3 separate regions of the Homo sapiens genome follow, and all the other regions are linked to region 3. The links come from fine-mapping of genetic effects on gene expression. A gene starts in region 3. Each other region holds a variant in brackets. All regions are shown on one strand. Distances are from middle to middle.

Region 1 (2,754 bases), 44 kb before region 3:
CCATAAAAAAGCCATGATGATCCCATGAGATTATCTTGAGTCCTGATGTGACTTTCCATCTGTCATTTCCCCTCAGCCTCCTCTGCTGAACAGACATGGCAGCTTTGCCTTCTGGCTTCATCCAAATGGCTAAAAGTTGTTGTGGAAATGTTTAAAACCAAAGTCTAACTCTTCTTGCAAAATGTTCCTGTAGATTTTCATCAAGCTTCTAATCATCAGCTGTAAAATATGTTCCTTCCACCAACTGGGAAGAAACAGAACACTTCAATGATGTAACCAACATTTCACCTTATCTATCTATATATTTCTTATCTGTAATGAAATCATGGGAGATTCTGTTAGTTTTTGATAAAATCCAGATATGCTATGTTCACAGCCATTCTCCAGCCTTCCAATTTAGTAATCCTGTCAAAAAAGAAAATCATAGTAGTTTGAGTCTATTTTTACTGAAATCCTTTTAGGTCTCTAAGAATCACCTTATTTTTTCCTAAATGCTTACAAACTTCTATTTAATAATTTATTCTAGAATATTACTTATGTGTAGATTGAGGAATTGAGGAATCCTTTTTCTCCTTTTTTTTTTTTCTTTTGAAAGTCAGGATATTATCCAGTCTCCAGTCTTTTCTATACCTGCTCACACTTTCTTTGCCTTGGCTCTGAGGCTCATCTGAAATGTCTTTCAGTACTGAGGACTTTCGGTACTTTATCTGGCCTGGACACTCAAACCACTTTAAAACAAACGTGCTGTGCCTCTTTACTTTCATCCATCTTGGGGCTGCATTTCCTTCTCTGTGCTGCTTACCTTCCCTAATTTAAACCCCATGTTCTGAAAGATGCGTAGAATTTAGACATTTCCAGTGAAGAAGATAGCGTGAACAAAGGTGTAGAGATCCACTCACCCAATATTTATTTACTGAGATCTTACTATGTGCCAGGTACTGTTGTAGACACTACCCGTGGCTCATGCCTATAATCCCAGGACTTTGGGAGGCCACGGTGGAAGCATTATTTGAGCCCAAGAATTCGAGACCAGCCTGGGCAACATAATGAGACCCTGTCTCTACAGATAATTTTTTAAAAATAAAATTAGCTGAACATGGTGGTGCGTGCCTGTAGTCCCAGCTACTTGGGAGGCTGAGGTGGGAAGATTGCTTGAGCCCAGGAAGTCAAGGCTGCAGTGAGCTGTGATCATGCCACTACACTGCCTGGGTGGCAGAGCAAGACCCTGTCTCAAAAAATAAATTAACTAAGGCCGGGCACGGTGGCTCACACCTGTAATCCCAGCACTTTGGGAGGTCGAGGCGCGGATCACCTGAGGTCAGGAGTT[C/T]GAGACCAGCCTGACCAACATGGAGAAACCCCATCTCTACTAAAAATACAAAACTAGCCGGGTGTGGTGGCGCATGACTGTAATCCCAGCTACTCGGGAGGCTGAGGCGGGAGAATGGCTTGAACCCGGGAGGCGGAGGTTGCGGTGAGCTGAGATCGCGCCATTGCACTCCAGCCTGGGCAACAAGAGCGAAACTCCGTCTCAAATAAAAATAAAATAAAAATAAATTAAGTAAGTAAGTAAATAAATAAGTGGTGAAGGAAGGCCTCTTGGAGAAGGCATCATTTGAGAAAAGATTTAAAGGAGGTGAGGGCACAAGCTATGCAGACCTCTAGATAAACATTTCTAGGAAGAGGGATCAAAAATGAAAATATTCTGGGGTGTGTGTGTGCCTGTGTGTGTATGTAGTGGGTGATGGGATAAGGCCTCTCCTTCTCCTGGAGGCCACTGTGGCTGGAGCTGAGTGAAAAAGAAGAAAATGGTAGGAGATGCAGTGTAGGTGGTCTTCGGAAAAGAATGGGAAGCCAGATCCTGCGGGCCATCTGGGAGAGGATGGCTTTTGTTCTGTGGGAGATAAGGAACCACTGGAGGGCTTGGAGCAGAGGTGTGACATCGGGCTTCCATTTTTTTTTCAGTACTACTTTCACTGCTTTATTAGGAATAGATTGTAAGGGATGCAGTAGAAGCAAGAAGTCAGGTGGCTGGTTATGGGGTTATTGTCTTCTGAAAGCCACGTAAAGAAAGTGAAAGGTGATGGTGACCAGTGAAAGTGGTGAAAAATGATCAAGATTTACAGACAGTTGAAGGCAGAGCTATAGGACTTGCTGATGGATTCAGTGTGATGTGAGAGAGAGGAGTTAAGGCTCTCTCCAGGTTTTTGGCCTCAGCTAAGTAAGAAATTGGCCTCACCTGACAAGGAAAACAGTGAATGGAGCATGTTTTGTTGGGAGATGGGCTTGGGGGTGGAGGGTAGGAACTTGGTTTTAGACCTGTTAAATTTAAGATTCTTTAAGACATTGAAGTGGCGAGGCTAAGTTAGGTAATTTAATATAGGACTCTGGAGTTCAGTTGAGTAAAACATATAAAGTCCTGAAACTGGACAACATACCAAGGAAGTGAATGTAAATTTAAAAGACAGAGAGAGGCCCAGAGACTGAACCTTGGGGAGACTAAATATTTAAAAGTCAGAAGATAAGATGAATGCAAACAGTGAGGTGAGGTAGGAAGAAAACCAGGGGAGTGTGGTGGCCTGGGAGCCAAGTAAAGTGCTTCGAAGAGGAGAGAGTGACCAGCTAAGTCAGTGCTGCCCAGACCTAAAAACATGAGGACTGAGAAACAAATGCTGGATTTAGCAACAGTAAAGTCACTGTTGGCCCCAACAGAGATGATAATGAATGGTTTATATTTGGAAGACAGTAAGTTAGCAA
Region 2 (2,754 bases), 42 kb after region 3:
ACTGCAGTATGTAGATGCTCTTGGCTATGTCAGTCTTTTTCCCTTGCTGCTGCGACTGCTGGACCCCACCTCATCCCGCCTTGGGCCCCTGCTGGACATTCTAGCCGACAGCCGCCATCTCTGGAGCCCCTTTGGTTTACGCTCCCTTGCAGCCTCCAGCTCCTTTTATGGCCAGCGCAATTCAGAGCATGATCCCCCCTACTGGCGGGGTGCTGTGTGGCTCAATGTCAACTACCTGGCTTTGGGAGCACTCCACCACTATGGGCATCTGGAGGGTCCTCACCAGGCTCGGGCTGCCAAACTCCACGGTGAGCTCCGTGCCAACGTGGTAGGCAATGTATGGCGCCAGTACCAGGCTACAGGCTTTCTTTGGGAGCAGTACAGTGACCGCGATGGGCGAGGCATGGGCTGCCGCCCTTTCCACGGCTGGACCAGCCTTGTCTTACTGGCCATGGCTGAAGACTACTGAAGGGAGGGAGAGGAGGGGAGCCAAGACACTCATGCCACTCTGGCTCTGAAGGGACAAAGGCTTCTGGCTTTTGCCCCCAGCCCCTTGGATACCAGTAATTCAAACCTTCCTCATTTCATCTCAGGTGTCTCCTTGCTGTCATCCCACATAGCCCTGGGGTGAATGTGAATCCAGAGTCTATTTTTCTAAATAAATTGGAAAAAACATTTTGAACTCTATTGCTTTTGCCAGATTTGCCTCACCAAGAGGCCTTAGGTCAGTCCAGGCCTCAGCACTGTCTGCTGTCCTCAGGGAAGGTGGGGTCAAGTGGCCATAACCTGTCCCCTTCAAACCCAGTCAGGTCAAGTGCAATGCAGTGAGTTGAGCTTTAGTCCACCCAAATCCACAAGTAGCTGGTTCACATCTCTTTAATGAGATCAAAGGCTCCTGTGTATGTCCTGCGGGGGTAAAGCTAGCACAGTCCCCCAATACTGCCCCTCTCCAGCCCTTTCAGGCAGATTCTAGGTAGGCAGGGAGGGGCCAAAGGAACGCAAGGAGTTGGGACTAGGGCTGTTTCTGGTGGGCAAGTAACCCATCCACCCTCTCAAAACTACTTATGGGATGTCCCCTTCACTGGAAGACAGCCCCATGGGAAAGATCTGCGGTACAGACTCTGGGGGTAGTGCACACGGGGAGTAGTCCTCCAGATCTGGCAGGGTGGCACTAACCCTCACCTCCTTGACTGGCTCACCCTCACCGGAGGCAGGACAAGGGCAGAGCTCAATACCGGAGTCGCCAGTTAAACGGCGATAGCGGCAGGAGGGGGGTGTGGAGGCAGGGGTCACCCCTGCCCCGGGCTCACCCTCCTGATGAGGGGGGGCACTCTGGTGGGAGGAAACACCTTCCACATTTGTTCCTTCAAAGTGGGCAGGGCAGCTGGATGAGGAGGAACAGCAGGTTTGTTCACTGGAAGCAGTCAAGGGGCGGCCTGGGGCCACAGTATAAGGGGGGGGTGGTGTGCCTGGGCGGTGAACCACATCCTCGTAGGCTGGGGGCTTGAAGGTGCTGAGGAAGCCTGCAGGGGAGAAAATTGGCATGATTGGTTGAAGACAACCAGGTATAGGGTGCTAGTTTTTATATTAGGGAAAAATACTTTGAAATGTG[T/AAATGTGT]GGAAAAGGGAATGTGAGACGATTTGGGGTTCTGGTTTGGGGAGGGCCACTGGTAGCTGACCCAGGGCATCAAGTCACTCACGAAGGTCAAGCAGTGAACCGGTAGGGAAAGGACCAGCCCCATGGCATGCCCCATGATAGGCCAACAAGTTGATTTCACGCTGCCGCTGCTGTTGTTGCAGCCTGAGTTTAGCTCGTCGGTGGCGGAAGGCGCAACAGCAGCTAAAGAGGATGAGGACAGTCCAGAGCAGCCAGAACCCTGCAAGAGGCAAGGAGGGAGCAACTCAGGCATCTTTCATGCAGAGAAGGGGCCCTGAAGGCCGAAATTCTGAGGTCCAAGGGAGGGTGGACACAGGGACCTGGAAATAGCCCTCTTGGAGACTTACACCAGAGCTCATAGTAGTAGGTGCAGCAGCCAGTCTCCCCGCAGCAGTGACCACTCTCACAGAGGTAGGGCTGGTTGTTCACTCCTGGGCACAGCTCTCGAAGCTGCGGGCAAGGAGGCACTTAGAACTAAGGGGGATTCCAGCCCAGGGCACTGTCCACCCCCACCTCCTGCATGCACATACACAATCCCACCCTGTGAACCAAGTTCAGCTTGGAGAGATGGGGGAAGTGGAGGATGCTGAGAGGAGTGTTGAAATATCTGAAGGGCTGTCAACGTGGAAGAGGATTTGGAATAGCAAGAATCAGTCTAGAGAACAAGACAAAAGTGTGGACATACAAAGAGGGAGATTTCAGCTCTGCATATATGAGACTTCCTTCACACTCAAGCCTCACTCTCCCCAACCCCCCTACCCCCATCCCCTCGGTGCTTTCTGTTAAGGGAGTGTTTTGGCAGAAGCCAGAAGACAGTCTGAGATAATCTCAGTCTCAGACAACGGGTAGCGGTAGGTCATTTCCAAAGCAAGTTGCTTTCATTATCCTGCGCGGTTCACTACCCCCCACCCGCAACTGGATCTTTCCACCCCTGGGCCTCAGGCTCCCTAGGATAGAGGAGGGGCAGTGTGAGACCCAGAGCAGTGCTCCCAACCAGATGGGATTGCTGTGGATGATAAAGGATGGCATCCAGGGCGCGAGTCTGGGTTCCAGCTCTTCTCCAAATTGCTCCCTCAAGAGAAGACGCTGCCGGACTCTGTTGT
Region 3 (2,754 bases):
TTTCCGGGAGACCTCCGCCTCTCCGCGCGGATGAAGAGGCTGCAGACGCCGAAGAAGAGCTCGAGTGCGTGGGGCACTGATGGGGATCGGGGTGGGCACACAGCAGACGGCCTGGGTACGCTTCTTTCCTGACATGGTCTCCAAGGTTAGCAAAGCTTCCAAACGTTTCCAGGCCTCCAGCCTGGAATGCCTCTCCCCCCGCTCCCCGACCTCTTCCAGGAACACCCCAGCTCAGGGCTCCCCACTCCCCTTCCTGCGAATTGAAGCTCTGTGGGCTTTGCGGTCCGGGCGGGCGAGTACCTGGCGGCCGGGGCTGTTCTCCAGGAGTTTCTGCGCGAAAAGTTTCCTAGGAGTGACGGGATGGCGTGGGCTCAGGGGAGAGTAGAAACGCTCCCGGGGGCTTTGCAGGGACCGAGCAGCTGCGGGAGCTGGGGAGCAGTCTGACTGGGACTCCCTGGAAGGCCCTGCCATTGGGGCTGGGCGGCAGCTCGGCGTCGAAAAAGCCGGGTCTGAAGATTAATGTGCCGAGGCCGGAGACCCTGAGGACCAAGTCACGGGACTTGCCCTTGGTGACTCACGCCTTGAGGCCGAGCAGCGCGGAAGGCGCTCAGGCCGGATCTGGGGTGGGGCCCAGCCGAGCCTTGGTCTTGTCTGTCAGCAGCGGCAGCTGCACTGCGTCTCCCAAGGTGGCTGAAGCTGGCCAGCTGCGGGCTCCGCGCCGCTCGTCCCGGGTCTATGGGTCCATTCCCCACGCCCACCCGGACCCCGGGGTCACTCGGGTCTCCGTCTGTGCCAGGGAGGGAGAATCACGCCCAGGGTCCTCTCTGGCTTCGCGCGACTGAGAACGCGCCCGGACGCGGCGCGGCGCTCCTGAGTCAAAGGAGAGGTGGCGGCAGGACCACCCCAGGGCGCCGTCTGCACCCCCGGACGCACTCGGCCGTGCTGCGCTTCCGGGACAAGGCGTCGGTTCTCGCCTGAGGGCCAAACCTTGCCCCTGCCCACCTTCCTCACCCCCGCCATTTCCAGGACTCACATCCAAAGGCGACAGCACCAGGATTTGCTCCCGCCTTTGGCACAGAGGAGGACGGGTCCCTCTCTCAGCCTGGCCAGTCTTTCCCAGGGCTTGATGGGAAAAAGGACTTCCCTAGAAGTGAGTCTTGGGGAGTTGGGGGGAGAAAAGTGTCGAGGAGGGCGTCGGAGTTTCCCACCGCTGGCTGCTTCCCGGCCCGCACGCCCGGGAGGGTGGCGGTGGGCGCGCAGAGATCTTTGCAAAACAGCGTCCAGGGCGGAAAACAACTCACAGGCCTGCCGCCCCCAAAGTCACGAAACTAAGATATAAGGACCGGTTCACTCCGCAGTAGCGCTTTCTGAAAGAGAAAACAATCCCAGAAGTGTGCGGGACGGACGGAAGCCCCGCCTCACGCTCCTCCGCCTGGACTTTGCTCCCTGAACTCCCACTGCCCTCTCACTCCGGTTCACGGACGTTTCCTAAGGGTGGGGAGGAGGGGAGCAAGCTCTTCGCTGAGATTGTCCTTGTCCACCTCCCCAAGGGGGTTATTCCGAGGGTCCTCCAACCCTGCTACACATTCACAGAATTCAGTGGAATGTCCGGGCCGGCAATCCGAGACTAAAGGTCGTTTATTGAGCAGGCCTCCGTGCCACCAGTGGGGAACGGGGTCGAGCGGGGGCGGCCCGGGGTGGAGGAACCCGCCGATGGGGTGTGTGGGTGCAAGATAAGGTGGGGGTAGGGCTGAGGGGTGAGAATGGGAAATCTGAAAGGGGAGGTGTGAGGAAGCATCCTTAAGCGGGAATGGGGTGCCTTCCCAAGACAGCGAATTTGGAATGTGGGGATCTCTACAAGGGGAGGGAGCGCAGGGCCCCGAAATGTCTGAATGGACAATCAAAGGAATCTGAGAAGGTGGGAAACACAAGAGACTGCCTGAAAAGGAAAACCGTTGGCCCCGCGGGGCCAGCGGTGAAGGCTGGCCTCCGTGCATCTCTTGAGAAGGATCGTGAACAGGGAGGGTTCTACCCGCGGGTGGGAAGAGGCGAGCACCCAGGAGCTTCTGTGCTTCCAAGCTGGGGTGGGGGGTAACCTATAGGACAGCCGAGTGAGTGTCCCCTCCCCAACCCAGAACAAGTTTTAATCTCTTAATCTTCCTCATTAATCACTCACCCTCCTACCCCTCTCTGTGGATCCGATTTCGCCCCAGCTCGAGTTCCAGTACTGAGAAAAGTCCCCTTCTGTGGCCCCACGATCCCCTGGACTAGTCCCTGGCCGCTTTGACGACCTTAGAGGGGCCTCTGCTGTCCTGGGCCTCCTCCCTTTGCTACTCTCCACTTCCATCTCCTCCCCCAAACTCATGTTTAGGAGCTGTCCAATCCCAGTACCTGAGCCCAGCTGCAGAGGGGAGAACTAGGCGGGAGAGATGGAAGGGGCTGTGAGGCACAGGCCCATCAGCAGAGCTCCACACTCCTCACAGACACACGTAAGTAATTGAGAGCAGAGGTAGAGACAGACACAAAAGCCACATAGAGGATGCATGAGTGAAGGTTGCAGCATCTGCTTGGTGATATGCCTGGGATGCAGTGGGGCAGTTCCTGCTGCCTCCAGAGAGCTGCTTTATTGCACATTAAGTGAAACCACTAGGATGGTTTCCAGGGCTGAGGCCTGTAGCCCGAAGATCTCTCCAGGCCCTCCCCTGCCCCTCACCATTAATAACCATTTAACAACGTCCTGAGGCAGCTCAGCTT

Direction of the effects. Positions count from the first base shown, and alleles are read on the strand shown. Sizes are in standard deviations (SD) of each study's normalised expression. Not every link is listed here.
With allele T in place of C in region 1, the expression in subcutaneous fat of the gene that starts at base 1,393 in region 3 is lower (large effect, 0.84 SD a copy in GTEx).

Evidence for each region. PIP is the estimated chance that this variant, and not a neighbour inherited with it, causes the effect. A credible set is the group of variants that fine-mapping cannot tell apart.
Region 1: its variant is the best candidate, but not a certain one, in a credible set for the expression of LBX2-AS1 in subcutaneous fat (GTEx, PIP 0.69).
Region 2: its variant is the best candidate, but not a certain one, in a credible set for the expression of LBX2-AS1 in pituitary (GTEx, PIP 0.86).

The regions. Positions count from the first base shown.
Region 1 is chr2:74,545,510-74,548,263 of GRCh38, reverse strand. The region is part of intron 4 of LOXL3 (lysyl oxidase like 3); the gene reads left to right. Among named protein-coding and RNA genes, the nearest start is that of LOXL3, 7.1 kb to the left of the region's middle. RefSeq lists an enhancer at 2,049-2,218. The variant C/T (reference allele first, on the strand shown) is at 1,328.
Region 2 is chr2:74,458,990-74,461,743 of GRCh38, reverse strand. WBP1 (WW domain binding protein 1) reads right to left here. Exons shown (of 4, transcript NM_012477.4): 2 at 1,999-2,101; 3 at 1,695-1,871; 4 at 863-1,523. The coding sequence ends at 1,063. It overlaps MOGS (mannosyl-oligosaccharide glucosidase), which reads left to right. Exons shown (of 4, transcript NM_006302.3): 4 at 1-687. The coding sequence ends at 469. INO80B-WBP1 (INO80B-WBP1 readthrough (NMD candidate)) reads right to left here. Exons shown (of 8, transcript NR_037849.1): 6 at 1,999-2,101; 7 at 1,695-1,871; 8 at 853-1,523. Among named protein-coding and RNA genes, the nearest start is that of WBP1, 1.9 kb to the right of the region's middle. The variant T/AAATGTGT (reference allele first, on the strand shown) is at 1,613.
Region 3 is chr2:74,501,232-74,503,985 of GRCh38, reverse strand. It overlaps LBX2-AS1 (LBX2 antisense RNA 1), which reads right to left and starts at 1,393. Exons shown (of 2, transcript NR_152616.1): 1 at 1,034-1,393; 2 at 1-346. It also overlaps a transcript of LBX2 not described here. RefSeq lists enhancers at 494-563, 470-764, 235-860, 861-1,485.